Linked DNA regions of Homo sapiens: all the other regions are reported to be linked to region 2. Evidence: microRNA targets listed by miRTarBase, many of them from high-throughput screens and not tested one by one. Region 2 holds a microRNA gene; each other region holds the end of a gene's coding sequence.

Evidence for each region. Region 2 holds the annotated microRNA hsa-miR-181b-5p (AACAUUCAUUGCUGUCGGUGGGU, at 2,861-2,883, opposite strand). A microRNA usually pairs through its seed, bases 2 to 8, with sites in the 3' UTR of a target mRNA and lowers its output. Matches are read on the target gene's strand: a 7mer-m8 pairs with bases 2 to 8, a 7mer-A1 pairs with bases 2 to 7 and ends in A, and an 8mer does both.
Region 1: the mRNA of PWP2 is a reported target of hsa-miR-181b-5p. Seed matches in the 3' UTR shown: 7mer-m8 at 627-633.
Region 3: miRTarBase lists AFF4 as a target of hsa-miR-181b-5p. Seed matches in the 3' UTR shown: 7mer-m8 at 3,707-3,713.
Region 4: miRTarBase lists ZNF667 as a target of hsa-miR-181b-5p. Seed matches in the 3' UTR shown: 7mer-m8 at 3,474-3,480.
Region 5: the mRNA of PRAMEF4 is a reported target of hsa-miR-181b-5p. Seed matches in the 3' UTR shown: 7mer-m8 at 4,489-4,495.
Region 6: the mRNA of ARRDC3 is a reported target of hsa-miR-181b-5p. Seed matches in the 3' UTR shown: 7mer-m8 at 2,565-2,571.

The regions. Positions count from the first base shown.
Region 1 is chr21:44,130,388-44,135,478 of GRCh38, forward strand. It overlaps PWP2 (PWP2 small subunit processome component), which reads left to right. Exons shown (of 21, transcript NM_005049.3): 21 at 210-794. The coding sequence ends at 384. GATD3 (glutamine amidotransferase class 1 domain containing 3) reads left to right here and starts at 3,296. Exons shown (of 7, transcript NM_004649.8): 1 at 3,296-3,451; 2 at 3,715-3,767. The coding sequence starts at 3,311. RefSeq lists enhancers at 2,796-3,323, 3,324-3,851, 3,852-4,379.
Region 2 is chr9:124,691,517-124,696,607 of GRCh38, reverse strand. MIR181B2 (microRNA 181b-2) reads right to left here and starts at 2,898; the gene lies at 2,810-2,898. All of the region lies in intron 2 of NR6A1 (nuclear receptor subfamily 6 group A member 1), which reads left to right. The region is part of intron 1 of MIR181A2HG (MIR181A2 host gene); the gene reads right to left. MIR181A2 (microRNA 181a-2) reads right to left here and starts at 4,166; the gene lies at 4,057-4,166. RefSeq lists an enhancer at 1,041-1,586.
Region 3 is chr5:132,876,653-132,881,652 of GRCh38, forward strand. AFF4 (ALF transcription elongation factor 4) reads right to left here. Exons shown (of 21, transcript NM_014423.4): 21 at 1-4,534. The coding sequence ends at 4,407. Among named protein-coding and RNA genes, the nearest start is that of LEAP2, 5.5 kb to the left of the region's middle.
Region 4 is chr19:56,436,638-56,441,728 of GRCh38, forward strand. ZNF667 (zinc finger protein 667) reads right to left here. Exons shown (of 7, transcript NM_001321356.2): 7 at 2,692-5,091. The coding sequence ends at 4,525. Among named protein-coding and RNA genes, the nearest start is that of ZNF583, 35 kb to the left of the region's middle.
Region 5 is chr1:12,874,818-12,879,903 of GRCh38, forward strand. It overlaps PRAMEF4 (PRAME family member 4), which reads right to left. Exons shown (of 4, transcript NM_001009611.4): 4 at 4,395-5,086. The coding sequence ends at 4,727. Among named protein-coding and RNA genes, the nearest start is that of PRAMEF4, 8.8 kb to the right of the region's middle.
Region 6 is chr5:91,366,836-91,371,926 of GRCh38, reverse strand. ARRDC3 (arrestin domain containing 3) reads left to right here. Exons shown (of 8, transcript NM_020801.4): 8 at 471-3,296. The coding sequence ends at 527. Among named protein-coding and RNA genes, the nearest start is that of ARRDC3-AS1, 11 kb to the left of the region's middle.

The DNA of each region.
Region 1 (5,091 bases), not on the chromosome of region 2:
CCTTGAAGGCCTTTGCTGCCCCAGGGCTGGATGGGGCAGAACCAGATTGTTGGGGCAGGGAAAAGAGGAAAAAAATGGCTGCTGGGGTGGAGGAACCGGCATGTCCAGCCCCTGCTGCTTTTCTCAGGGGTCACAGAGGAGGTGGTTGGGTGCAGGACAGGCCAGGGCCTGGGCGTTGCTGGCATTGACCATCCCTGTGTGATTGACAGCTGTAGCTGGAACCACTATAACATGCAGTACGCACTAGCAGTTTCCAAGCAGCGGGGCACAAAACGCTCCCTAGACCCGCTGGGAAGTGAGGAGGAGGCAGAAGCATCTGAAGATGACAGCCTGCATCTGCTTGGAGGAGGAGGCAGAGACTCAGAAGAAGAGATGCTGGCCTAGAGCCAGCCGGTTGCAGCGTTGGATTGTGCCGGCTAAGACCTGCCAGGGAGATGGGACCCTTGTGCCACCTGGGCCAGCAAAGAGGAGGGGTCCAGAGAACAGCTGAAATACTGTCACTAGTGGTAGTGACTTGCTTTTCCTGTGCACACATGTAGCCCATCAGGACAGCGAGCCGACGGGTCACGCCAGGGGCCGGCACGCACTGGCACCTGGCCCCAGGAGCGGGGCCGTGTGAACGGTGATGAATGTTGAAAATGCGTCTCAGAGAGGTATTCACATGAACTTTGTATGAGACTTATTTATATCTTTAACATAAAGGTTTGATAAAGAACTTAGGGATTAAAAAAAAGATGGAGTTTTCTAACGTGAGGATGAAGTCTACACTTCAGATTAAAAAGGGTTATGTTGTATCCTGCTGTCTTGTGGGGGCTCAAGACCTGCCTGCCTTACCACCAGGGCCTCCGTCCTGGGGAAGCAGGCTGACAGAGCAGGGTGCTCCTGCTGTCTAGCGGGGGCTCTGCCTTGTGACCTGTGCATATCCTTGGGGTCAGGGGCACAGAGCCTCTCCCTGACCTCTTGGGGATGCTTTGGAGTCTGGGGCTGGGATTGGCCTGTCTTGGTGAGCTCACTCAGACCTGCACCAGCTCTGCGTGGGCCACACGGAGGAGGAGACAGCTCCTCCCCTCTGCAGTGCCCTTGGGAATAGTCATCATGAGAGAGGCTTGGGTCTCCATCATGGTAGGGCATCCTGGTCCCCACAGCTCAGTAACAGCAGCCTCCAGGGTCAGGACCTGAGGCTGACACTGAGGTGGGCACTTCACCGACTGCCAGTGCTGTCTGCCAGGCCCAGCCTGTCCCTCGCCAGCGGTGTGGCCCCCAAGACCCTGGGTAGTACCTGGCTCCCTTGCTTATCTGGGAAGTGGAGCTGATATCTGCCTGCCGGCCTCCCGGGGGTGGCGTGAGGCCAGATGTGCTAGAGAGTGGAGATGAATACGACAGGCAGTGCCTTGTGGCCCACAGCACTGTACCTGCAGGCCTGCAGACCAGAGGTCTTTGTAGAAGGGAGGAGCTCAGGCCCTGATGACACCAGGTGTTCTGTGGCTGCACAATCTCCGTGACCCAGACGAGAGAGAATCCTTAGCTATCGCCTACCCAAAGCACAAGTTCCAGTGTTCCCCTCCCTTGCCTCGCCCTTTTCCGTGAAACAATTTCCAGCGTTCCCCCTCCTCGCCTCACCCTTTTCTGTGTCACATGTGCATGGCGATGGACACCTGAGTAGTCGCCCCTGGGACAACTGGAGCTGCGGCTCTGCAGTGGGGTCTGGGAGCTCCCGGCCAGGGGCAGCTCCCGCACACTTGGTAGAGACAGGGTCCTGGCCCCCACACCGACTGAGTGAGAGTCTGCATTCGGCATTTCCTTTCTGAGTGGCGCTTGGTGTTTTTTTGTGCCATCCCACAACCCCATCGCTCCCACCAGCTGATGCTCCCTGGCTGGCCGCTCCCCAGGAGCTGAGAAGCCTGAAGAGGGCCAGGCACGGAGGAGCAGGAACGAGGACAGTCAAATGTGCCAAGCTTGTCTTTGGTTGTAACTGGTAATGTCCCATGTCTGTTATTCTAGTTCCCCACTATCTTGCAAGGATTGGCAGTAAAGTCCTAGTGATGGACAACGCGGCAGTGGGGAAAGTGACAGCCGTGGCTAGATCATCAGATGTGTCTGTAGAATCCGGTGTGTCCCTGTGAACATCCGCCAGCAGTAACCATTCACATTATTTCAAAAACCTGCATTATTAGGTTGAAAATGGGTAAATCGGGGAAAAAGCCAGCACTTATCCAGCTATTCCTCTGTGAACTAACCCATGCATAACAAACAGATTTTTTTAATGGAAGAATTCCAGCTAGGACCCGAGCAGCTGGGATCTTCACACTGACCGTCCATGCTGTGAACGTAAAAAACAAAAACAAAAAAACAAACCCAAACAGCGCCCGGGAATGGTGGCTCACGCCTGTAATCCCAGCACTTTGGGAGTCCGAGGCGGGCAGATCACCTGAGCTCGGGAGTTCAAGACCAGCCAGACCAACATGGAGAAACCCCGTCTCTACTAAAAATACAAAATTAGCCTGGCGTGGTGGCGCATGCCTGTAGTCCCAGCTACTTGGGAGGCTGAGGCAGAAGAGTCGCTTGAACCTGGGAGGCGGAGGTTGCGTTGAGCCGACTTCGCGCCATTGCACTCCAGCCCGGGCAACAAGAGGGAAACTCCGTCTCAAAAAAAAAAAAAAAAAAACCCAAACAGAATCGGCGGCTCACTTGCCCCCAGACTAACCCAGATCAAGCCCCTGGGTGGAACTGCAGTTTCCAGGATACAACATCCCGGGGTCAGTAAAACCCGGAGGGGTCGCTCCGTGGGAGCCGGAGCCGCGAGGAGACAGTCATGGAAGCGGAGGGGTAGTCCTGACCCCGCGTGGGTCCTGACGCCGAGATTAAGACGAGTGGCCATTTAGGAGGATGTGGACCCTGGACGCTCGTGGTGAGTTAAGGATGAGACGGAGGTAAGGTAAGAAGCGCCGGACTGAGCCGCCCCGAGGCAGCCTTGCTCTGCGGATGGCGGAAAGGGTGCGCCGCCTGTGGAGGCGTCCGATGGGGGCGGGGCTGGGGACCCCGGGAGTCACCAGCATCCCTCAGCCTCGAGCACGAGCCCTCAGCCACCACCGGAAGGAAGACAGGGTTCCCGGAACTCTATTCGGAGGCTCTGCGCAGGCGCGGCCCCCGCCCACCGGCGAACTCACTGGATAGGGCTGAGACGGGGGCGGGTCTTGGCTCCGCCCAGAAGGCTGCGCAGGCGCAGTCCCGACGAGCAACGCGTTTGTAGAGGGGTGGGTGCGCACGCTCTGTCCCTGCGTGACCTTCCGACCCCGCTGTCCTCACCGCAATGGCGGCTGTGAGGGTCCTGGTGGCCTCGAGGCTCGCTGCGGCATCTGCATTCACGTCCCTGTCCCCCGGCGGTCGGACGCCTTCCCAGCGCGCAGCCCTTCACCTCTCCGTGCCGCGCCCCGCGGCCAGGGTCGCGCTGGTGAGTGGACGGAGGGGGTGAGGTCAGCTCCCGCCTCCAGAGATCAGCCTTCGCTGTTCTCTGCCCAAGGTCGGCCCCTCTTCCTAGGTCCGCTCCCGCCGCCCCACGTCGGCTCCTTCACCCCAAGTCAGCTCCTGCGGCCCAGGTCGGCCCCATTTTCCCGGGTCAGCGCCCGCGGCCCAGGTCGGCCCCTTTCCCCCCAGTCAACTCCCGCCGCCCAGGTCGGCCCCTTTCCCCCGGGTCAGCTCCCGCTCCTCTCGCAGGTGCTGTCTGGATGCGGAGTCTACGATGGGACCGAGATCCACGAGGCCTCGGCGTAAGTCCTCAGGGGCAGCTGGTCCTCCACCCCGGGGGCCTCGAGAAGGCCTCTCCACCAGTGAAGTTTACTCTTTTTTGAACAGCTTAGAGAAAGCATGTATTTTATTTTATTTTTACTTTTTGTCTTTTGAGACAGCGCCCAGTCTGGAGTGCAATGGCGCGATCTTGGCTCACTGCGGCCTCCGCCTCCTGGGTTCAAGCGATTCTCCTGCCTCAGCCTTCCGAGTAGCTGGGACTACAAGCATGCACCACCACACCCAACTAATTTGTGTATTTTTGGTAGATACGGAGTTTCACCATGTTGGCCAGGCTGGTCTCAAACTCCTGACCTCAAGTGATCCTCCCGCTTTGGCCTCCCAAAGTGCTGGGATTACAGGCATGAGCCACTGCACCCGGCCGAGAGAGCTTGTATTTTAAATACCCTATTCTTGGCTAAAAAAAAGCAAAAACGACTTGCAAAACCCAGGGAGACGCTAAGAAAGAACAGTTTTTAAGTGTCGCTTATGCTGTCACCTAGAGCCTAGAAATGACTTAGCATTTCACTTGAGTGTTTTTCAGGACACACACATTTTGAAAACACTGAGATCACACTCACCCGTGTTTTGCAAATGTTTCTGACGCATGGGAAGTAATTCCCATTCATTCAGTTCTCAACATCATTTTAACAGTTGCGTGGTATTTCTGGGTCCTAGACAGGTTACTGTTTACGTAACTGGTCAGCTGTTGCTGAGTGCTTGGTGGCCTGATTTCCTGTGCTACTGGAAATGACTGCAGGCCGAACCAGTAGGGCAGGAGGCCACCACGCGTGCCAGGTACCTGTAGTTCCCATGTGGTTCAGGGTGAACTGGAGAGGGGAGAGCTGGGTGGTGGCGAAAGGGGTGTCAGGCCATGGAGAGTGGCCTGAGGCTGGTGGCTTTGTGGGTGGCCCACCTTGGCTGGTTGGAGTTGGCACTAGGCAGAGTGAGCTGGGGGAAAGGGCCAGGATGTGTTTCATGATTTGGCCTTGGTGGGATAGAAAATAGCCCCAGAATAGCTTGAGCCCTCCCAGGCAGAACGGCAGGGTCTTGTGTCTGGGGTGTCTGGGTGGATTTCTTATGGGTAGCGGAACCCAAGTGCCAGGGCCAGGTGCTGACCTCTCCCTCTGGCAAGTCACTGCACTTCATGCCTCGGTTTCCTCCTCCACGTAAGGGGCAGTGAGGGCTTAGTGTGTGGGTGGGCTTAGCCACCTATCTCCTGTTGGCACTGGGAGTTGCGGATGCCAGCGTGAGCCCCCATAATGTCAGCTGTTGTCCCCAGGAGGAGCTTCTGTTGCCCTTGCCCTT
Region 2 (5,091 bases):
GAGGTTGCAGTGAGCCGAGATCACACCACTGCACTCCAGCCTGGGTGACAGAGCGAGACTCCATCTCAAAAAAAAAAAAAAAAAAAAGCTAGAGAACATTATGTATAATTTGTGATGTTATTTTCTCTAAGTATAAATACATGCATTTTAAGTATCTTGAAATATCTGTGAGGCTATACACCGAACAGGATGATGGAAGGGGGTCAGCCAGTAGGCTTTTATTTTGAAAAACAAAAGCCAAAGTATGCCTTTTTGAGATAACCTTTCCTTTCATTCCATTCCTGTTGACTCAGTTCTACCCCTGCTAACTTGTGCAAGAAAGTTCTCTTTTTTCTCTTTTCTTCCCCTCACTTCATCTGCTTAGTGACTCTTCCCAGTCTTGCTTTCATTGTCTCCTTGCTGAGTTTAGCATTTAAAACGGCTCTCTGTTGGACTAATTGACTTTGCGCCTTGCTCACAAGTCCTTCTGTAATATGTCCTTTTACCTTTTCAGTGCCATTCCTTATGACTCCCTAATACAGTCTCTGGACTATTCTCTTCCTGTCCCCTATACATGCCATGTAATTTTTCTGTTACAGGTATTTATTTTGAGGCCTATCTGCAGAAAACACCCTTTAACTTACATAATTGTCTCCCTTCTTGTAGTACTTAGTTTTATCCAAGAGAAAACTTGGATTTGGTTTAATGAAATATATAATTGTTTCATTGGCATATTTAAAGACTATGTAATAGTCTGTAAATAAATAGCATGCTTGTTCAAGTGTACATTTTTCAAAGTACGTGTCAGACATTCTTTTCTAATGTTTTCAGAAATTTTGGAAATAATTGGTTAAAAATAAATGCCTAGAATGCACAGCATCTTGAAAAACAAGACTGCGTGGAGTACCTTCTGTGTGTCTACCAGTCTCACAAAAAACTCTTCTATAAAGACCCCCTCGGGCCGGGCGCGGTGACTCATGCCTATAATCCCAGCAATTTGGGCGGCCGAGGCGGGCGGATCACTTGAGGTCAGGAGTCTGAGACCAGCCTGGCCAACATGGCTCTACTAAAAACACATTTCTTCTAAAAACACAAAAATTGACTGGGTGTGGTGGCGGGCCAGCTACTTGAGAGGCTGAGGCACGAGAATCACTTGAACCCAGGAAGCAGAGGTTGCAGTGAGCCGAGATCGCATCACTGTACTCCAGCCTGGGAAACAGAGCAAGACTGTCTCAAAAAAACAAACAAACGAAAGAAAAACACACACAAAAAAACCTTTTGGTAATTTCTTTGGGTAGGTTTTAGTTTTTTAGATAGCGTAAATCCAAATCCATTCATTTCCATAAAACATCAGACACAATTTGATGTATATTTGGCCACCAAACATGGTGCAAAATTTTATGTAGTCTGGAGATACTTAAAAGCAGCACAAATGTGACTCTACCTGTCTGCACTCAGCAGAATAGTGGCGATTTCAGGTGGTGACACAAAAGGTTGGGCAATAGTTGAAAAGTGGATGACATGAAATGTGGTGGTGGGATGGGGGCAGGAAGCCGATGTTAAGCTAGTGAACTTTATTTACTTTGCTTCCAGCTTCCAGTGACCCAAAATCACCTCGTCTAGAGTAGGGCTCAGGAATTTGCCATTTTAAAAGCAACTCTAGATGATTCTGGTGTACAAGAAGTTTGGGAAACACTGGCTTGAACCTGATATTTTCTCTGAACTCTCATAGTTTTCTTTAGATTTTTCTTTTGGCTTTGATTTCTCTTTCTGGTTCTTGTCTCATTACCCCATCACTTCTCCTTCCTAATTTGACAGGAAAGCCTTGTCAAATTAAGGCTTGCTTAATTGTCAAGGCTAATTTGACAAGACTCTTCTCTTACTGTCTTATTTGACTTTTGCTATGAGAATCTGCTTCTTCTTAGACTTAAGTGTATGATAAATTATTCATGACCAAGGGCCTTGTTTTTCTTTCTTTAACATGGGATTTAGTGGCTTATCTCATGTTACAGGATTTAGAGAGTTGATACTACATTTAAATTTTTTGTTAAGAAAAATGTACATCTTCTATCTCACTTAGGTGTTTTTCCTGTTTGAGGGACATGGTTTGCAAAGGTTAGAATGAATGAGCCTCATAGTTTTTGTCAAAAGAGAATATTGATGTACATCTGAATAATAACCAGAACATTCATATTAAGTCATACTATATAGCCATTTAAAAGAATGACGAGTACATAAAAGACTGTTGTGGAAGTCTATGATATATAGCTGAATAACAAAATAGATTATAGAACAATAGGTAAAAATGAGCTTATTTTTGTCTAAGCCACTCTCCCCCCAAAACATGCAAAATTACAGCTATTTATCTGTGTATGTATGGATAAAGGTCTTCAAGGATATAAAATAAATTCTAGTTATGATATTTATTATCTTAATAAGTTTATTATAATTATACATGTTTTCCTCCGAGGAAATGGATTGCAGATGATGATTGAAGGGATTTTCAATTTTTACTTTGTATATTTTTGTATTTGAATTTCTAAATAATAAGCATATGATTCTGTTTAGAAATTCTGAATGTACTGATTTTTAAAATGTGATGTGATATCCAGATATGTATTTAATTCTTCCTATAAAATATCATTTCCTTAAATCTAGACTATTGAAAAAGGAGAAAAGTACTAGGAATTTAGAGAACTTACTCCATGTTAGAACCAAGGAGAACAAGAAAAGCTTTAGCTAGTGTTTTGGAAATAGTAGCAGCTCCCACTCACAGCAGTAGCTGCTGCACTCAGGCGACTCTCTGCACATGCTTTTGCTTCCTTTGGGTTGTTTGGTCCGCAGTTTGCATTCATTGATCAGTGAGTTGATTCAGACTCAAACCCACCGACAGCAATGAATGTTGAGTGCAGCCATCAGTGTTTTCAGTTGGTGGGGTTGCCTTTGCCCTCCCTGGCTGACTCCTGGCTCTTCTTTTCCATCTCAGTTCTTTGAAGTCTGTGTGTCTGGCTTCTCCCTTAGTAACCAGCCATCTGCATGATTGAGGGCCCACACAGGTGTCCATAACATTGACATTGGAGCTGGGAGGTTATTGCAGATGAGGAAGCTGTGGTTCAGAGAAGGAAGGAGTGCTTGGAGAACCTCACAGGTAGCACTGCGCCACACAGGCAGTGCTTGCATATTAGTACCTGTAAACCACAGCTGAGGGACCTGCTTTTCCTCTTTGTTTTGAACTGAGAAGTATGAGTGCTTTTTTGAGGTAAATTAGCAGATTATGTTGGAGTTTAATAATAACAGCTTACATATATTGAGCATTTGCTGTGGGCTAGTAATGGTACAAAGCACCTTATATATTATCTCATTGAGTCTCAAAACTCCATGATAGGTACTCTTAGCCTCTGTTTTATATGTGAGAAAACTGAGACACTTGCTTAGGGGGTCAAATAACTAGTTAAGGGCTTGAGCCAAGATTCATCCCAGATCTGACTGACTCCAGGGCTAAGTTTTTGCTTGAATTTAGCAAACATTTAAATAAGCATATGTGGGGATATGTGGGCACTAGTAAGGCAATAGCTCATGCTCTAACTGGGATATCAAAAATTAACCATATTAACTATAATTCAAAGTGAAATGTGATAAGAACTGTCACAATTGGATAATTTTGTGCTATTTTTGCTTATTAAATCCTCCCCTTGCCCCTAATTAAAAATTTTGAGAGGATGTGGGAGAAATGGGAGTAATTATTTAACTGGATTTTATTCCAAAACAAAATACGTATTTTTAATAAATTTTTACTTGCTACGTCCTGTTTCTCACCAGAATGGTGCATATCTAGGAGACATGTAGGTACATTAGATATCATCATGGACTGCTCCTTACCTTGTTGAAATGAAACACTTTTTTTGTAAAAACAAACAAATAATAATAAAACACACAACAGAAAGCAAGGAACAGTGAGCAGTAGGAATAAAATTCACTGGACCACATTTGGGGGATTGCAGGACCATTTCTGGTGAACTCATGTGACATGTGAAGGTACAGCTTGCTCTTTTGCTTCAGGAAATGTAGTGTCGTCTGTAAGGACCCCAAGGTACAGTCAACGGTCAGTGGTTTTTTCAAATCCCAAACTCACCGACAGCGTTGAATGTTCCTTGGAGTCCTCTGAAGGCTGGCCTGATAGCCCTTCTTCATTCTCCCATCCACATCCCAAGAACCAGTGAGCAGTGAGACCACCGCTGATGGATGCTCTTACATTCCTCTCTGGGTTTCAAGTCGAGAGTATTTAAATTATAAAATCAATTTGTGTGCAGCAGAGAACTAATGAACTGTGGGATAGACTGTGCAGTAATTTGTACAAGCAGACTCAAATGAATGTCTGAGAAAATGTCTTTGAATGGTATTATTTTGTGATTCTAAAAATGTAAAATACCTGATTTTGCAGTAGTATTTTAATTGTTAACAAGGGTAAGAGATTAACATATATTGGGGATCTGCTATATACTAGGATTTGTATATTTTATCTCATTAAATTCTCAACAACCCACATTTTCCTGATGAAAAAACTTGAAGTGATTTGCCTAAAGTTACATTGCCAGGAGCCAAGGTTATAAGCCAGAATTTGAATACTGGACTTCATGTTTCCAGTGCTCACTCATCATACTGCTTCTGTTGTCTACTACAGAACTTACTGTTGATATCTAGGAGTAGACCCATCACTGCAGAGCCAAAGTCAAACATGTAAATTTCTTCTACTTGTTTGCCTATAATAATAGCAGGTAGGTCTATAGGTGAGGTCATAGGGGAAGATGAAAAACCTCGACCTCCATGATTGATGATCTCCTTTGCTGAGATCCTGCATTACTAAGTTACCACAGAGGTGTTAGTGATAGTCCACAAGCTATTTTCCATATTGAAAAAGCAAAAAATAAACCAAAAACCCACCACCTAATGTAAAGCTTGCATTTCTTCTTAGTTGAGAACACAGAGTGTAACTAAAATGTCAGATGTCATTTGTTCTGGCTGAAACGATACCAGTACATTATAGGACATAGTGGTTATTTTTGATTCTGTTGAATGTCTGTGATGAAAAATTTGAAAAATGAATTAATAATA
Region 3 (5,000 bases), not on the chromosome of region 2:
TCTGTGACCAAATTACATGAAAAGAAGATACATAGTTATTATTTCCATTCCCTTTTCTGGAGACAGCAAGTTCTTTCTAATTAACCATAGGGTTCATGTGAATAGGAGCTTTGTAAGACCAGCATCCACTTTACAGACTATTAATAATTTACTTTTTGTCACTTGCTAACTTGGTTTTGGGGTCTAGAGGTCTAAAGTGAATTTCTCCATTAGCGAGTATCTGAAAGACATGCTCACAAACATGAAAAATTTGGCCTCTTCTCACTACATATTCCAAGGTATTCAATAATTATCTCTTCTATTAGTTTTACTGAATAGCAACCTTAGATGTACAGTATTATTACTGGAAAAAAAGCCTGCCTCTTCAATACATTAATGCATAAAGCTGAAATGAAATTTATGTTCCATGTATTAGGGGATATACAGGTATGATAGGTGTCTATATGGGTTTGAAATGCTCTGTCTCCCCAAGTTACTTAGGTTTTTTAAAAAACATCATCACAAGCTGCCTAACAGTCATCCCCAGTAGATGTTCCTGGGACCCAGACACAAACTCCTATAAATCAAAATATATAATGAGGCCATACTGTTCAATTAGCAACTGGAAAATTAAAATCTTTCCCACCCTGTAAGAGCCCTACGACACTACAGAAGGGCTCAAATACATTTTAAAAGTTAATTTACTACAAATCATAGTAATTAAGCTTTAACAATCTAAAGGAATACACATTGCACCCTTGAACATTAATATTCAAGGTGTCAACAAGAAAGTGTCTTAGATCAATTTAATAAATAATGTGGAAATAGTTGCACTAAGCTAAAATACTAAACACACACATATTTGACAAACTAATTTCATGTTTTCATACATACATACATATATATAAAGTGTGTATGTGTACAGAATTTTAAGATCCAAAGTTGCATACCCTTACACCTAGAAGAGTGCACAGTGTACTCCTCCTCTATATAACTAGGCATCACTGACTGGAACAATCACTGGCTGCTCTGAAACTCCAGAGTACTGGCCTCTAGAGCCAGAACTTTCATTTATAACAAGTGCCTTTTGTAGGCTCTTGCTTCAGAATGCAAGCTCATTCATGAAGAAATGTACCAACGTTTCTGTCATTAAATACAAAATTATGCTGTCTGATCTGTCTGATTAAACCTTTAATGAAAAGAAACGAACAACAATTTTTTAAAAACTAGTGAATCTAATAAAGCCAAGTGTGTCATTCAAAGTGCAGCCCAAGTGCCTATGAATCCGCCACTGCCAGAGCTCCCAGAAACACAGGTGTCTGTGGGCTCACGCACACTGCTCTCAATTGTTTTTACACTAGAGAATTAAATAAATGGTGGTCAACCTTCTCCACTCTTCGGCAGCTGTAGCTGTAAGTTTATCTGAAGTACTCACTGCATATAAAGTCACTTCTTGGCTACTTGCCCAGAAAAAGGTGGCACTGAGGCAAGGAATGGGCTGGATGCTCTCTAGCCAGACTGGAGCCTGGGCTGAGCTGTGGAAACTCCCCTGAAGGGGAATGCTTCCCACAGCCCAGCCCAGTCTGGCCCAGGCAAGACTACTGTGACAACTGCAACCACTGCAATTGGTTCGTTGGTTGCTTGTAAAGAGTCTAATGGTGTATAGGCTGCTGCCTCCTGGCATACAAGTGTAGTCATAAAGAGCAGTCAACAGAGTAACTGTTTAAAATAGTTGTTGTTTCTATAATTAACCATATACTAAGTACAAGTCTCAGACTAAGTTTTTAGCCACTTGTCAAATTCAGTTTTAAATGCTTAGAAAACACTGAGGACACCTATTGAGGAGGGAGGGGGGAAGGTCACCTGTAAAGGAGTCCAAAGTATGTGCTGGAGCAGATGATGACAAAGACAGAACATCTAAGAAGATAGACATGGAGGAAAGGGAGTAGTATTTCCACACACTATGACATTGAAAATTCAATCATTTATGATAGGATTTTGATCCATTGCCCATTACTACCTTGTGGGAAAAATCCTCCACAATGAAAAGGTTGAAAAATTCATTCTCCAAAAATTGACACAGTTTTAAAGAGAAAATATTAGAGCAGCACCATAAACCATGCAGGAAACTCTGCTTTAACAAAATATCAGTGTGACCCCAAAAATGCTCCTGCTGCCTTTCAGGACATACAAGAGACTAGAACACAAGAACTCAGAGGTATCCCACTGGCTGTTGTTGCTGAAAGTCTGAAAGCCCAGAGGATACTTTTTCCATTTCTAAGACATCACTGCAAATTAAGGAATCCAAGTCAGAAAAATCAGAGAAGGACAAGACATAACATGTATTTGATTAACAACCATTATTTCTTACTAAATAACTATCATGATCATTGAGAAGTTGTCCTCTTATGGAAAACTGTTCCTAGAACACACTAAGATTAAGTTAGAAAGATATCAGAGGCAATTTCTCCAAGAGAAACAGGTTAAATTCAACATAATTTGTACATCTCAATCTTCAATGACATCTAAAAACAATCTGAGGTACAAAACAGTTAAGAAGCTCTATAAATATGAGGCCACAGGGACAATGAAAGTTCACTAACTTCAGAAATAAGTGTAAAAAAGTCTCAAACACAAAGGATTCACTGCACTACTGGACTTGAAACTTTTCTATCCCTTCTTTCCCCTTTCCTATTTCAAGCCTTAGCAATCATCTACAAATAGTAGGATAATCTTTTTTTCTGACTGAATGGATTCATTTTTGGAATGGGGAGAGGGACAAACTATTTTTCAAAGCAGCATTACCCAACTGGTTAGACTAAGTCATGTACCAAAGCAATAGCTTTTCTGAAAGAACTAATCTTTATATGACCCTAAAGAAAGATTTAAAATGAAAGAATTGAACATTATTATTGTAGAAGACCAATCATGTATGGACGATCTGGTCCTAGTGTAAAACTTCATTTGTAAACAATCCATAGAGTCTTCATTTAAAGGTAAGATTTAAGGCACACCAAACATGATAGGGGCATGAAAAATAAAGTATAGAGGGTACATTTCTTATCTTAGACTTCTATATGCACCTTGTAGCAAAAGGTACTTTGATATACAACTCTTACAGAGCCAGCTTCTTTAAGCTCTACCCCTGGCTCCACTCCCTGTCCCAAGAGCTCACACTGAATCAAGTTAGGTACACTTTTCTAGTGTGAAATTTTCTGATTCCATCAGAAACATACATCATTGAAGAGGGCCTTCATAATGCAAAAGGAGTAAACAGAAGATAGGTTTAAAAAGGAGAAATTCATCATCTCTACATCAGGCATTAGAACTGTAAGCTGTATAGCAAAAGCACACACCGAAGCTCCAGCCTATTTCTGTATCAGTCATTGCATGCTCATATCAGAGCATCACAATCCAGTATGAGGGGGAAAAATCTGAAAAATAACTCTAACTATCAAAGATAATCAATTAAAGACACACAGGCGGCAATCCTCAGGAGTTGGATCATCCTTTTTTCCACAGTAACTTATTCTGTTTCGATTAAGTGTCAAATGATTAGCAACAAAAAATAACATATGGTTTTAATAAAATCCGTAACGTTCAGGATTGTCCTTTTATGAAACCCTTCAACATGAAATGCTTCTTCTAGAAAGTTTGTCCTCCCTCTTTTGTAATGCATTAAATGCAAGCTATAGTCACTGTGTGATTGCTGTAGTGTTATTAACACACATTCACAGTTTTTGAAATAATGCATACCAAATCAGACACATTTCATAGTACATACATGTAGAATGCCATTTTCTCATATTTAAGTGATTTTTTCATGTGTAGAAGAATATCCTTAATACTAACTGTAAATTCCACAATAATAAAATTGGAGTTAAGATTTCAAATATCAGGTCAGGTAGCAGGTGTAGAAAGAATATGTCCTTATTTTAGACGAACCAATTCTTACTCTTAGAACAGCTACCACAAAAAGATATTAGGTAATAAAGCTCCCAAGGTATATAAATAAAAATGTCTACATTAAATTTATGCTAAATATTCAACAGAGTAAATTTATAGGCAGAAATAACTAAGTCTTAAACTAGCCCCAATCTGGGAACTTAAAAAAATTAAAATAAATAAAATTTCAATTCATTAGTTATGAATTGCAACTGGAATTTCAATCTTATCATAGCTCACGGAAACCATCTTATCAATGTGCTGCAGATTTAAAAGCATTTAAATAATCTTTCACATTGGAAATATTAAAGGGCCAACTGACATGATCGCTTTGGATTATCAAAAACAACAACACATGAACCAACGAGGAGAAAACTATTCCTCATTCTTAGTGTCGACTAGGTGGTATGTTATGGCAGTTTTCCTTCGTGATGTGACACAGTGTTGTGGAGAAAATCAGAGGCAACGAGAATGTGTTCAGTTCAAGATATCAACTTGGCATCCTGGCGAAGCCAGTGCAGTCCCTGCCGGGTATAACGAACTAGATCTGTCATGATGCTTGCATTAAAGATGAGAGGGCCCATTACTTTATCCAGTTCAGCAAAGAATTCTAGAAAACCAAAAACATTCATTAAATGATATATACTCTTTTGAATCACTGCTTTAAAACTATGAGTAGAGATTATAAAACAGCATTCATAAACTCAAAAAATACCTCCTCCTACACTAAAATGCTTACTGTCCATGTTTTAGAGCAAATCATTCCATAGTCTCTCAAGTTACATTTGTTCCCTAAGTCATGCAACATTTTAAACAGAATGTATGGTCAGAAATTAAGTGTTATATATAAGCAGGATTCCATGAATGGAAATGATAAATTGCTATTATGCAGTAGATATTATTAAAATGAAGATTTAATGCCATAATGTGCTACTGATTACTCAAAACATTTTGTGCATTGCTTTTGTATAAGAAGCAAGTGACACAAAAAGGAGGACATTCTTTGCCTGTTTCCTGTAACAGCCTCTGTGAGGTTAGACACTTAAGATTATATCAAACTTTCGGCTACCATCATA
Region 4 (5,091 bases), not on the chromosome of region 2:
TAATTTTTTCCCCTCTCTAGCTTGCTTCAAGATTATTTTCAGTAGTTTGAACATAATATGGCTGGGGTGGTGTGTGTTTGTGTGTGTGTGTGAGTGATTTTAATATTTACCTTCCTTGAGGTTCTCTGAGCTTCATAGATTTGTGTTTTCTGGGTTCATAAATTTTGGAAACATATTGGCCATTATGTCTTCAAATATTTCTTCTGTCCCATTTATTCTGTATCTTCTGGGATTCCAATTATGTGTATGTGTTGGACCAATGGATATTTTCTCAGAGCTCTTGGATTCTCTGTTCCTTCTTGTCCTACCCTACCCCACTTATGTTTCAGTTTGAGTAACTTTTATTGTCCTAACGTCAAGTTCATTTACTTTTTCCTTGACTATGTCAAGTATATTGATGAGCCTGTTGAAGACAATTGTTCATGTGCTTATTGAGTTTTTTCATTTCTAGTATTTCCATTTTATTCTTTTTGTTATTGTTTGAGACTGAGTCTCGCTCTGTCTCCCAGGCTGGAGTGCAGTGGCGTGATCTCAGCTCACTGCAAGCTCCGCCTCCCGGGTTCCCGCTATTCTCCTGCCTCAGCCTCCCGAGTAGCTGGGACTACAGGTGCCCACCACCACGCCTGGCTACTTTTTTTTGTATTTTTTAGTAGAGACGGGGTTTCACCGTGTTAGCCAGGATGGTCTCGATCTCCTGAGCTCGTGATCCGCCCACCTTGGCCTCCCAAGGTGCTGGGATTACAGGCGTGAGCCACCACGCCCAGCCCCATTTTATTTTTATAGTTTTTGTGTCTCTGCTCAAATTATCCATCTAATCTTGCCTGTTGTGCATTTTCCATTATAACTCTTAAGATACTACTCATAGTTCCTTTAAATTCCATGTCAGTCCAACAGCTATGTATTTCTGAGTCTAGTTCTGATGAATTTTGTTTCTTGGTGGGGTAAGGTGTTCATTTTTGCATTTTTGTATGCCTTGCATTTTTTTTTTCCTGAAAGCCAAGTATCTTCTGTAGAACAATAGATATGAAGGTAAATGGATTTAATTCCTGGAAAGGGCATGTCTTTCTATGTAGCCTTTAGTGTGTGGGAGGTGGATGGGTAAGATTTTTATAATTATAGCTAGGAATTGAGGAAGGTTTATGGTTTGTTGTTGCTGTGGTTATAAGTTCACCATAGGTTTCAGATATGAATAGTGATTCCTTATCTTTAGGGTCCGAACTGGTTTTCCCAAGGGTCTATCTCAATGTCAGGGTGATCTTCAGGTTTAGGTCCCATTGGATTATGCTTCAGATAGCCCATCTATACTAATATATTTTCATTCATTCAAATACTTATTGAGTGCTAACCATTGAATTATGTGTCATTGTACTAAACGCTGGAACTTGTAACTCCCCAAATACTTTATTATTGTTTGCCATTATTTTATCCATCTGTAATTTTCTCTTTAGCTTTCCAACTTTTGTGTGCCTAGCAAATTCACATTCTTCCTTTAATATTATCTGCAAAAACAATCCCTGTCCCCATACCTCCATCACCATGAAGTTTATCATCCTCTTCTCCGTACTACCTATGCACCTTATACAGAATTCCATATTTTATTACCTGAATTCCCTGGTAAACTGTAAGTGTCTGCTGGCAAGAACAGTGTCTTATTAGTTTACATATCCACAGGATTTAGCAGTGATTGGTCCAGGGTGTTTACATGCACAACAAATGTGCAGCGAAAATATTTGCTAATGAAAGCTGGAAATCTATAGGCATCTATTAAAAGCAAAATACTGTAATAATGGGCTCTCTTACAACAGTCTAGGAGTAAAGCAAAACATTTTTCTTGCCAGTTAAGTTTTCAGGACTTTAAAAAAACACAAAGTTGATTTCCTTCTTAGTTTGGATATATTTTTTAAATTCATGTAATGCAAAATAATTTAAATAATAAATGATTCGGCCTATTAGGATATAATTGAGTTCCAAGCAGTTGGGAGGACACATGAACCCAAAGTTACTTTACCTTTATTGCACTTTCACAAATGCCTTTAAGAGCTTAAGAATAGGAGAGAATAGACAAAACTAGATGAAATGAGAATTTTTGACTGGGCCAGAAATAAAGCAGTGAGGATATGCAATTCTCACAAGTAATTCCAAGTTAAGTTTAACTGTATCATGTATTGCCATTCTAATGCTCTCTTGAAATCCCCAAGAGGAGCAAGAAATGCAATAGGCAATGAGATAAGCCTGAGGAAATTAGGTGACTGTGGGCAGGGCATTCTCTTGCTTCTCCCTAGTCTTCAGGTGTGTCACAATTCATTTGGGACTGACATGTATTTGTATGGCAGATTGGCAGAGGAATTAACAAGCTAGAGGGTGTGTGTAGAAAAGAGGGGGAAAAAAGACCTGCCTCTCCATGAGTTACCTCTGTGCTGTTTGCTCACCCATTTGCTCCAAGGGGTGGATTTTTATGCTTGCTTTACAAATACGAAAGAACAAGTTTAAATGGGAAGTTAGTTGTACTATCCTGTATGCATGCTCACCCCTCACAATTTGGATTGTTGTTTTATCAATTGTGGTCAAAGTTAGGATGACCTAACCCATATACATTCCACACATTCCACAAAGTCATCTTAAACTTAAGGTATTCTCAAAAATAACTTTTACAGAAGGAAAACTTAAACAGAAGAGCCCAACTGTGTATGATCCAATTACAAAAAAGTTATCTGATTTTATTTCTTATATATTTGGCACAAACAGCAGAGACTGAAAGCTACTACACATGTTGAACTGCTGACAGGAAAAGAACCCAGTAGATAAATCTAGGCTTTCCACTCCATATATTAGCTGGGGCTGCCATAACAAAACATCATAGACTGGGTGGCTTAAACAACAATTTACTTCTCACAGTTCTGAAGTCTGGAAGTCTGAGAACAGGTCGCCAGCATGGTTAGGTTCTCGTAGGGTTCTCTTCCTGTTCTGTAGACAGCTGGCTTCTTCCTGCATCCTCACATGGTGCAGAGAGCAAGCAGGCTTTCTGATGTCTTTTTGAGACGTAGTCTCGCTCTGTCGCCCAGGGTGGAGTACAGTGGCGTGATCCTGGCTCACTGCAACCTCCGCCTCCTGGGTTCAAGCGATTCTTCTCCTTCAGCCTCCCGAGTAGCTGGGACTACAGGCACATGCCACTGTGCCTGGCTAATTTTTTGTATTTTTTTTCAGTGGAGACGGGGTTTCACCGTGTTAGCCAGGATTGTCTCAATCTCCTGACCTCATGATCCACTCGCCTTGGCCTCCCAAAGTGCTGGGATTACAGGCATGAGCCACCGGGCTCAGCCTGATGTCTCTTCTTATAAAGGCACTAATCCCATCACGAGGGCTCCACCCTCATGACCTCATCTAATCCTAATTGCCTCCCAAATGCCTCATTTCCAAGTAACATCACATTGATGGTGAGGATTTTAACATAATTAGTTTTGGGAGGGACATAAACATTCAGTCCATAACAACTCATATTACACCACTTATTGCATACCAGTATTGTTACATGAAAATACCAATGTTTACTCATATAAATATAGATGATTTATTTCCAAATAAAACAATACTGATTTCTCCTGGCTCTGAAATCCTCATTCTTCACTATATCTTGGTTCTTTTACTGATAGCTTGTCTCAGCCAAGTTAGACGTTCACACCATGAAGATCATATATCCTCATATCCGTGGAGATGGTAAAGTAAGGTTTCTACTGTTACACACCATTATGAGTGACAACTTTATCTACCTAAAGACTCACTTTTCTTTATTCTCACCCACAAGTTTGTCAGCTGAAAGTGGCACCCTGTTTTGCCGAGAAGTTCCTTATATTTGATAATTCTAGATCTGAGAAACAGACTCAAATTCTTTTTTCTGTGACCTTAAATCAGGCTCAGAGCCCTATAATGGACTTCACAATTCTATTTTGTTGTATGTGACCAATAAATTATCTTTAAAACTATGCTGGAAGTAAAATATCGGTAATTTTTTTTTTTTTTGACACAGAGTCTTGCTCTGTTGCCCAGACTGGAGTGCAGTGGTGCAATCTCTGCTCGGTGCAACCCCCACCTCCTGGGTTCAAGCGATTCTCCTGCCTCAGCCTCTCCAGTAGCTGAGATTACAGGTGCGCACCACCACGCCCAGCTAATTTTGTATTTTTTAGTAGAGACAGGGTTTCACCGTGGTCTCAAACTCTTGACCTCGTGATCCGCCTGTCTCAGCCTCCCAAAGTGCTGGGGTTACAGGTGTAAGCCACTGCGCCCAGCCAGTAATTCTTATCAAATGAAAAATGATCTTCATTCACAATGACTGACCAAACTTCTGAGTTTCCTTCAGTTAATTTCAAATCCTGAGGTCAAAATCACCAATGACTTTTGCTCTTTGGCTTTCAAAGTGGGACATATCATCAAATGGTCCCATATACACAAAATTTACATTATAGACAAATACATATTTGCCATATGTTTGATAGCCTCATTCGTTGATTTTATAGATTTAAAACAACCTTAGGCTTTTTCTTCAGAATGTGTATTCTGATGTCGAATCAGGGATGAACTCCGACTATATGCCTTCCCACATTTACTACATTCATAGGGTTTCTCTGAAGAATGACTTCTCTGATGTCGAATAAGGTCTGAGCCACTGCTAAATGCCTTCCCACATTCATTACATTCATAGGGTTTCTCTCCAGTATGACTTCTTTCATGTAGAATAAGAGATGTGCGCTGACTAAAGGCCTTACCACATGTTTTGCATGTATATGGCTTCTCTCCAGTGTGAATTCTTTCATGTTGGGCGAGGTGTGCACTCTGGCTGAAGGCCTTCCCACACTGATCACATTCATAGGGTCTATCTTCAGTATGAATTCTCTTATGTCGTGTGAGAGATATTCGGTGGCTGAAGGCTTTTCCACATTCCTCACACTGGTAGGGTTTTTCTCCAGTATGAATTCTTTGATGTTCAATAAGAAATGATTGGCGGCCGAAAACTTTACTACATTTATTGCATTTGAAAGGTTTCTCTTCAGAATGAATATTCTGATGTATTTTAAGGTTTGCAGTTCCAGAAAACAT
Region 5 (5,086 bases), not on the chromosome of region 2:
GATATTTAATGAAGTGAGTAAACCCACACCTGGATGTTTACAGCAACTTACTCATAATCGCCAAAACTTGGAAGCTAGCAAGTTGCCCTTCGGTCAGTGACTGGATAAGCAAACTGATCCATCCAGTCAGTGAACTATTATAAAGCTGTAAAAAGACATGAAAAATTCCTAAATGCACGTTATTGTACAAGTGAAAGAAGGCAATCTGAAAAGACTCATCCTGTTAGACATTCCAGAAAAAGCTTTTGCATTTTTCTAAGGAGACAGTAGAAAGCCCAGTGGATGCAAGGGGTTGGGAGCACAATGGGATGAATGGGAAGAGGACAGAGGAATTTTAGGGAAAGAAAACTACTCTCCATGATGCTCTAATGGTGGATACATGTCATTATCCCTTTGTTAAAATCCATAGAATGTACAAAACCAGCAATGATCCCTCATGTGAACTATGGACATTGGGTGATAATGATGTGTCCCTGTGGCTCATTGGTTGTGATGAATGCTCTGTGCTGGTGTGGGTGCTGATCCTGTGGGGGTGCTGTGTATTGAAGGGGGAAGAAGGTAGATGAGAACTCTGCAGTTTCTGCTTAGTTTTTCTGTGAATCTAAAACTGCTGTAAAGGAAAAAATAGGCTGGGTGTGGTGGCTCACGTCTATAGTCATAGCATTTTGGGAAGCCGAGGCAGGTGGATCACCTGAGATCAGGGGTTCCAGACCAGCCTAGCTAAAATGACAAAACCCTGTCTCTACTAAAAACTGATAATAATAATAATACAAAAATTAATCAGGTGTGGTGTTGCATGCCTGTAATCCCAGCTACTCTGGAGGCTGAGACAGGAGCATTGCTGGAATCCTGGAGGCAGAAGTTGCAGTGAACAGAGATCGTACCTCTGCACTCCAGCACGGATGACAGAAGGAGACTCCATCTCCAAAATAAATAAATAAATAAACTCAAGGCTGGGTGCGGTGGCTCATGCCTATAGGAACTCACTCCCAGCAATTTAGGAGGCCGAGGCAGGTGGATCGCTTGAGCCCAGAATTTCAAGACCAGTCTGGGCAACATGGTGAAGCCTGGTCTTCACTAAGAATACAAAAATAAGTCAGGCATGATGGTGCATGCCTGTTGTTCCAGCTACTAGGGGGACTGAGGCAGGGAGATCACCTGAGCCTAGGAGGTCAAGGCTGCAGTAAGCCGTGATCATGCCACTGCACTCCAATCTGGACAACAGAGTGAGACTTTGTCTCCAAATAAAATAAAATAAAATAAAATAAAATAAACTCAATATTTTTTAAAACTGTAATGTTTCCTTTCAAAGCTAAAATTGTATTATTCTAAATATATTTTAAAGAAGAAATGATTATTGTTCAGTGTCTTTAAAATTAGTTTTTAAAATCTCATTTGTTTTGACATTTCAAACCAAGTTAAGTATTCTTTTTCTCACCCTCCTTGAGACGGAGTCTTCCTCTTTCACCCAGGCTGGAGTGCAGTGGTGCATTCTTGGCTCACTGCAACCTTTGCCTCGCAGGTTCAAGCGATTCTCTTGCCTCAGCCTCCTGACTATCTGGGATTACAGGCACCTGTCACCACGCCAGGCTAATTTTTTGTATTTTTCGTAGAGACGGGGTTTCATCATGTTGGCCAGGCTGGTCTGGAACTCCTGACCTCGTGATCTGCCCACCTCGGCCTCCCAAAGTGCCAGGAATACAGGCATGAACCACCACACCTGGCCATTAACCATTCTTGAAATATCACGTTGCATTCTTTAAAAGTTCTAATCTTTCATATACATAAATTACAACACAAATATTTATACTCTAATAGTATTCACATTATAGTAAATTTTTTTTCATGCTCTGTCGCCCAGGCTGGAGTGAAGTGGTGCCATCTCGTCTCATTGCAACCCTCACCTCCCGGGTTCAAGTGATTGTCCTGCCTCAGCCTCCTGAATACCTGGGATTACAGGCGAATGCCACCACTCCCAGCAAATTTTGTGTATTTTTAGTAGAGATGGGGTTTCACCATGTTGGCCAGGCTGGTCTCAAAATCCTGAGGCTGCCTTGGCCTCCCAAAGTGCTGGGATTAGAGGTGTGAGACACCATGCCCGGCCATAATAATAAATCTTATTTTATCTTTTTTTTTGAGACGGAGTTTTGCTAGGGTTGCCCAGGCTGGAGTGCAATGGCTCAGTCTGAGCTCACCGCAACCTCCACCTCCAGGTTCAAATGATTCTCCCGCCTCAGCCTATCGAGTAGCTGCAATTACAGACGTGCGCCACCACGCCTGGCTAATTTTTTGTATTTTAAGTAGAGAAGGGTTTTCTTCATGTTGCTCAGGCTGGTCTCAAACTCCCAACCTCAGGTGATCCACCTGCCTCAGCCTCCCAAAGTGCTGGAATTACAGGTATGACTCACTGCACCTGGCTCATAATAGTACATTTTTAAAAACACCATAAAATATAATCCTTGCAACACTCAATTATACCATCTGGTCGGATCTATCAGCAGATGGCACCCGAGACATACGGATTGGAAATTTTGATCTTATTATGAATGAATCCAGTCCAGAAATGCCCACCCTGCCCCCTGCTGGCTCCTGGGGCTCTGCTCTTTGGGGCAATCATGATGAAATTGTGGCAGAGAGTAGAAGTTGAGCCCCATTGCATGCCCTGAGTTCTTGTTGCCTCTCTATTATCAGGAAAAGGAGGTGAGATTGAAAGATGAAAAGTGCTGGGACTTCTGCTGAGAAGAGAAAAAAGAACAAGATGTATTGATCTTACTGTATGCCAGACCCCATGCCAAGCCCTAAACATGAACCATCTCATTGGATCCTACCAAGGTCCCATAAGCTGTTGGACATCATCATCCTCATTTTACAGGAAGCTGAGGCTCTAGGCTAACATCCCTGACAGCAACACCAGCCCCTGAGTACACAGCAGGATCCTTCACTTGGGTGCCCATTATGCAGAATTCCTCAGCACAGGGAAGGTCACTCATCACCCACAGGCCCTTGATCGTTATCCACCCTTTGATGCTGTCAGATTCCAGAACACGCTGCACTAGTCTCTTCCTTCATAGGGAGAGAGGGGAGGTGTTATGAGAAAATCTCTCATCAATCTGACCTAGCTCCCCCAAAAGATGTAACTTTTAAAATGTCAGATGGAAATATTTAAAAAGTGTTATATGCCTGTATAGTTTTAGTATTTTACTTAAAGGGAATGTGGCTGTCTTTACTGGCTACAACCAGTTTAATTCAAGAAGGGCTGCTGGTCATCAGGAGAACAAGCAAGGGTTGATGCTGCCCAGAGTCTCCAGCTAATACACAATATGGACATCCCCTTCCAGGGCAGCGGGAAGAGAGTGGCTCCTTGTGCAGTGAAGCTGACATCCACCAACTAAGGCTTCTGGAAGCATGTGGAGACTCACAGGGAGTGGGCAGGGTCTCAGCATCTGGATAGCGGTGAAAGACCCTGAGAAGAAGGTGCTTTCCGTGTGGATTGGCTCACTGTTCTTGCCCAGCAATGTTCCAGGCCTTTGGTGTCCACCTAGTGTGTATTAACCCACTGAACAGCCACAGAAACTAACAAGGAGTTAACAGACATCTAAAGAAGTGAAGAACTGGAGGAGGCCAAGCCAAGCGTGGTGGTCCACGCCTATACTCCCTGCATTTTGGGAGGCCAAGGCAGGAGAATCACAAGCTCAGGAGTTCCAGATCAGCCTGGGGAAGACAGCGAGGCCTTGTCTCTACTAAAAAGAAGTATCCAGGTGTGGTGGCTCACACAGCTGTAGTCATAGCTACTCAGGAGGCTGAGGTGGGTGGATCGCTTGAACCCCGGAAATTGAGGTTGCAGTGAGGTATGATTGTGCCACTGCACTGTAGCCTGAGTGACAGGAGACCTTTAAAAAACAAACAAACAAAAAAGCCTGACACAGTGGCTCACACCTGTAACCCCAGCACTTTGGTAGGCCTACTTGCATGAATCACCCAAAGTCAGGAGTTTGAGACCAGCCTGACCAACATAGTGAGGAAACCCTGTCTCTACTAAACATACACAAATTAGCTGGGCATGGTGGTGCATGCTTGTAATCCCAGCTACTTGGGAGGCTGAGGCAGAAGAATCATTTAAACCCCAGGTGGAGGTTGCAGTCAGCTCAGATGGCACCATTGCACTCTAAACTCCAGCCTGGGCAACAAGAGTGAAACTCTGTCTCCAATAAAAGAATGGGAGGAAACTGATTACAATAACCAAATTTCATTTAAATGCCTTGATTTTCTTGGGCTGCATCTTATTGATTGGACAACTCAGTCAGTGCCTTTTGTTTTTTCCATCAATAACTGAAGATTCCTGAGGCTTAAACTGGAAAACAGGTTACTTAATAATAGAGGGCACCAGACAGATTCTGCTCAGTTTTCCTTTATTTCTGATTGTTTCTTTACAACCATCCATGCAAGAGTAACTCCCTCATGTATTCTCAAGCCTGAATTCCACTCTAGACATTCAGATTCCCATTTTCGACTCTACAGGACACAGGTCCCCAAAGTCCCATCGAATCCATGGCAACATTTCCCCCAAGTCCGGCCCCTGCTTGATCAGCTTTCCTTTCCCACTTTCAGAGCCTATGTGTGAAATGATGGGTTCTGTGCTCCCTTTAGGATGTACCTAAGACCTAGGTTTTAGTTTCCAAGTGTCCAGAAGAAAGCGTTTGACATACCCATCCAAATAGGCAGGCATTCAACAGCAGTATTGATCTGCCTCCAGGTCATAAAATGACCTGTTGCCACAGTCAGGGCAGTAGTCAGTACAGAACAAGATCCTCTTGGGGTGCCTTAAGTCCCTCACTCTGTTCATCAGCTCAGCCCTAATTTGAGCAAATCTGCTCCAGCAGAGAGTACCATCAGCACCATAACTCTCCCGGGGGGCAGGATACAGCTCCACGCATAAGTTTTTGAGTATGATTGTGTGGCTCAGCAGGTTCTCCAGGGTGGCCATGCAGATGGGATTTCCACAGAAGCTGAAGGTGTTGAGCTCAAAGCAGCGGCTCAGGGCAGGCAAGATGGCGTTGACTTGGGAGTCTATGATGCCACAGTCATC
Region 6 (5,091 bases), not on the chromosome of region 2:
AGAGCATTGTTTATACGATTTCATTTTTCCAAAGTCAGAGGAAGCGATGAGTTAACTTTTTTGTAGAAGGATGAAAGGGGTGCTTTACAAAAGAAGATGATTGCTATGAAGATATTCTACGTTGTGTATTTAGGTCTTAATTAAGTACTACTAAAGTACTGAGTAAAAGTCTTCATTCACTGATAAAATTTTACTGTTAATTTTTGTGAAATAGGGGACTATTCAGACATGCCTTTATAAAGCTTGTTAATCTAGTAATTAAATATCAGGTACTGTAGGTACCAACACCCTTTCCTCCCCACATAGCATTTCACGTATGAAAAGAGAATAATTGGATATAATATGCTAACAAGCTGTGTTTGCTCTCTGATTACATTTCTTGACTAGTATTCAGAATTGTAGTCATTTGCTACATTCTTCCTAGACCTCATGAAATAACTCTGTAAACTTTTTTTCTCATTTCTTTCTAGATTGATCCAAATCCTGATCAGTCAGCAGATGATAGACCATCCTGCCCCTCTCGTTGAAGGAACACTTGGTTGAATCAAGTTGATGTGGGTTCCGAACTGTATCTCTTCCGGCTGAGGACAGAGAAGTATCTTGGAGACACGTTTCAGAGGAAGTGGAATTACTTTTGCCCAGAAAAATGGCGAATACATGAAACAACCAGTGATCATGCTTTAGAAGCCTACAGCAACATTCTGAGACTGCTCCAACATGCTTGAAGATCTAAGCTTTTCTCTTTTAAAACTGGCACATACTCAGAGCAGTCTTCTTAGCCTATGGTCGTACGTGTCAAGACATCACGTTGTAAAGAGGGATGATTTCCTTCTTTTGATTTGAAAATTTGCACATGCTCAATGCTTACATTGTGCGGTTCGACGTCACTACAGCTTCTTTTTTTTTTTTTTTTTTTTTCTATTTTTGCCAGACTCTTGATACTCTTAAAACTTGTTTGTGGTCAGCACAACAAGGAACAAAACAAAGCTTTGAAAAAACTTTAACATGAAAAAACGCACTGACATTTTTTTTTATTTAATATAGCCTGGACTTTACCTGCGTATGCACATGCTCAGAATTGTCTACTAGGCTGACTATGTATCACCTCTTCAGCTTGGATCCAATTGTGGATTTATTTACAAACATCAAATGCCTTCAAGCCAATCCTTTTTGCTGTATGTTTTGCAGCCTACTGTAGTAGATACGCAACAGATAATGTGGGAAAAAAAGAGATAAGAGGAGGAAGCTAATAAGAGACTGTCAAGATTGTATACCTTCTTGGTTTCTTTTAAGAATTTGTTGCCTTTCTACTATTACAGCAAAGCAGCATTTTGTTACTGACTGCCTAAAATCACTTAATCTCAGGTGAACGCATCACTTGCCAAACTGTTGGAATGCTATTTGTGTTTTGTTGCACTGTTTTTTTCGTTTGTTTGTTTGTTTATTTGGTTGGCTTTTTGGAGAGGGAAATTTGGAAACGGGACATACACAAAAGTTACACACCCACATTCCCTTTTTATCATGACATACAAGAAGAAACTAGCAGAGCTAAGAATGGAGTGAAGAAAGGCAGTATGGCAGGCACCAGCAAAGAGTTGAGGGCTGTTGCTCTTAAAAATTATTTTTTTTATTATTATTTTGAAAGTATGGAAGTTTTCCATTCACTGGGGAAAGGAGGGAAAAGTGCATTTATTTTTATACAGAGTTACTTAATTACCTCCAAAACACATATGTTGGAAATCGCTTTTGCTGGTGCAAAGTATATTAATGAGCAGGAATACATACATTGAGGTTATGAATAGAGAGCTCAATTTGTACCTTTGCTGTCTTGCTCAAGCTTGGTATGGCATGAAAACTCGACTTTATTCCAAAAGTAACTTCAAAATTTAAAATACTAGAACGTTTGCTGCGATAAATCTTTTGGATTTTTGTGTTTTTCTAATGAGAATACTGTTTTTCATTACCTAAAGAACAATTTGCTAAACATGAGAAATCACTCACTTTGATTATGTATAGATTACATAGGAAGAACAATCACATCAGTAAGTTATAGTTTATATTAAAGGTAATTTTCTGTTGGCTCATAACAAATATACCAGCATTCATGATAGCATTTCAGCATTTTCCAAGGTACCAAGTGTACTTATTTTGTTGTTGTTGTTGTTGTTGTATTTTAGAAGGAATTCAGCTCTGATGTTTTTAAAGAAAACCAGCATCTCTGATGTTGCAACATACGTGTAAAATGGGTGTTACATCTATCCTGCCATTTAACCCCACAGTTAATAAAGTGGCTGAAAATAATAGTAGCTCTGGCTTGGTGCTTGACCTGGTTAAATACTGTCTTAAAGCTCATACAAAACAAATAGGCTTTTCCATAAGTGGCCTTTAAGAAAACATGGAAGACAATTCATGTTTGACAAATGCTGACAGGGTGAAGAAAGCCCAGTGTAAAAATGAATCGCGTTTTAAGTGATTCGGTTAAAGAGTTTGGGCTCCCGTAGCAAACTAATACTAGATAATAAGGAAATGGGGGTGAAATATTTTTTTATTGTTGAATCATTTTGTGAATGTCCCCCTCAAAAAAAGCTAATGGAATATTTGGCATAAAGGGCATTTGGTGGTTTTATTTTTGTTTGAGGGGGATTGTCAGAAAATCCCTTTTCTCTCTTACGTCTAACTGACTAGGGAACAATTGTTGATATGCATAGCATTGGAATACTTGTCATTATATACTCTTACAAATAACACATGAAGCAAGAATGACCAATATTCTGATAATTGGCACTGGATCACAAAATGTGATAAAACTTTAAATGTATAAAACTTTATCAAATAAAGTTTTATTTTCCCCTTTAAAATGTATTTCTTTAGAGGCATTACTTTTTTAAAAATATTGGTCAATTCCTGACATAAGATGTGAGGTTCACAGTTGTATTCCAGTATTCAAGATAGATTCCTGATTTTTCAATTAGGAAAAGTAAAATCCAAAATGTTAGCAAAACAAAGTGCAATATTAAATGTTTGCTTTATAGATTATATTCTATGGCTGTTTGTAATTTCTCTTTTTTTCCTTTTTTATTTGGTGCTGAATATGTCCTTGTAGGCTCTGTTTTAAGAAAACAATATGTGGGAAATGATTTAATTTTTCCTATTGCTCTTCCTTGTGGAAAATAAAGTGTTTTGTTTTTTTCTGTTTTGTATAATTGTTTGGAGATTTATTTGAATCTTGATCATATTAGTAACTCACCATACATGCAAACACATTAAATTAAACTATTAAACTCTATTTTAAGCCATTCTGGGTAAGAATTGTATCTAGGTCTGTACTAAAGAAAATTACTGACCAACTCCTAGGCTAAAGTAGTCCTCCTGTCTCAACCTCCGAAGTAGCTAGGACTACAGGTGCACACCACCACACCCACCTAATTTTCTAATTTTTTTGTAGTCGTGGTCTCACTATGTTACCCAAGCTGATCTCAAACTCGGGCCTCAAGCGATCCTCCCAACTTGGCTTCACAAAGCACTGGGATTACAGGCGTGAGACACCATGTCCAGACTCTAAATTTCAATCTTAAATATGAAGCAAACTTAACCAGGTAAAATAATTCACTTTCAGGCACCAATTCCTTCTCACTGTGTTGTGTTCAAATTACCAGTATTTCAAGAGTACATAAACATAACATAGTTTTTTTTTTTTTTAAGAGAGTGTCTCACTTTGTCACCCAGGCTGCAGTGTAGTGGCAGGATCTCGGCCCACTTCAGCCTTGACTTCCCAGGTTCAAGCAATCCTCCTGCCTCAGACCCCCAAGTAGCTGAGACTACAGGCATGCCCCACCATGCCCAGCTTATTTTTGTGTTTTTTGTGGAGATGAGATTTTGCCATGTTGCCCAGGCTGGTCTCAAACTCCTGGACTCAAGTGATCCACCCTACTTGGCCTCCAAAGTGCTAGGATTACAGGCACAAACCACCACGCCCGGCCTAAAAGTTACATTAATTTCTAATTTTTGAAGAATATTTCTAAATTTCTTTAAATTTTAAAAACAGTGAATATTCTTTGTCTTAAAAGAATCTTAATTTTATAGTGTCTGATAACCTTAGAAGTACTTTTGGAATCACATTTAGAATTTTTCTTCAGTGTTTATACATTAATGCATGAGTTATCAAGTTGTATATGGGCCTTACTATATGATTCTCCAATATTTCTTCCCAAACATATATTCACATGCAAGGTATGTTACAAAGAGGCATCTAGACATACATTTTGGGTTTTTTGTTTTGTTTTTTGAGACAGGGTCTTGCTCTTTTGCCCAGTCTGGAGTACAGTGATAAGATCACAGCTCACTACAGCCTTGACCTCCCAGGCTCAAGAGATCCTCCCACTTCAGCCTCCCCAGTAGCTGGTACTACAAGCATGTGCCACTATGCCTGCTAATTTTTTTAAAATGTTTGTAGAGCTGGTGTCTCTCTATGTTGCCCAGGCTGGTCTCAAATTCCTGGTCTCAAGCAATCCTGCTGGCCTCCCAAAGTGTTGGGATTACAGGCAAGAGCCACAGAGCCTGACATAGACATACAAATATATACATTTTGTATACATTTATAGCTAATTAATTTTAGGAAGTACTGGCATCCTTTTCACTCAACCAGAAGCCAGTGATAACATAGTAACGTCTTAATACATTAAGGAATAACAAGCCAGGCGCATAATTCCAGCACCTCTGGAGGTCGAGGTGGGCAAATCTCCTGAGGTCAGGAGTTCGAGATCAGCCTGGCCAACATGGGAAAATCCCGTCTCTACTAAAAATACAAAAATTAGCTGGTCGTGGTGGCATGTGCCTGTAATCCCAGCTACTCAGAAGGCTGAGGCACAAGAATCACTTGAACCCGGGAGGCAGAGGCTGCAGTGCGCCAAGATCATGCCACTGTACTCCAGCCTGGGTGACAGAGTAAGACTCTGTCTCAAAAAAAAAAAAAAAAAAATTAAGGAATAGCAATGACAGTGTGGAAGAGGGGAGTTGTAGAATGAGAAGGGTAGACCTAGGTTCTGGGTTCAGTAAGTTTAGATGGAGCATTGAACAAAATGCAAGTTGATT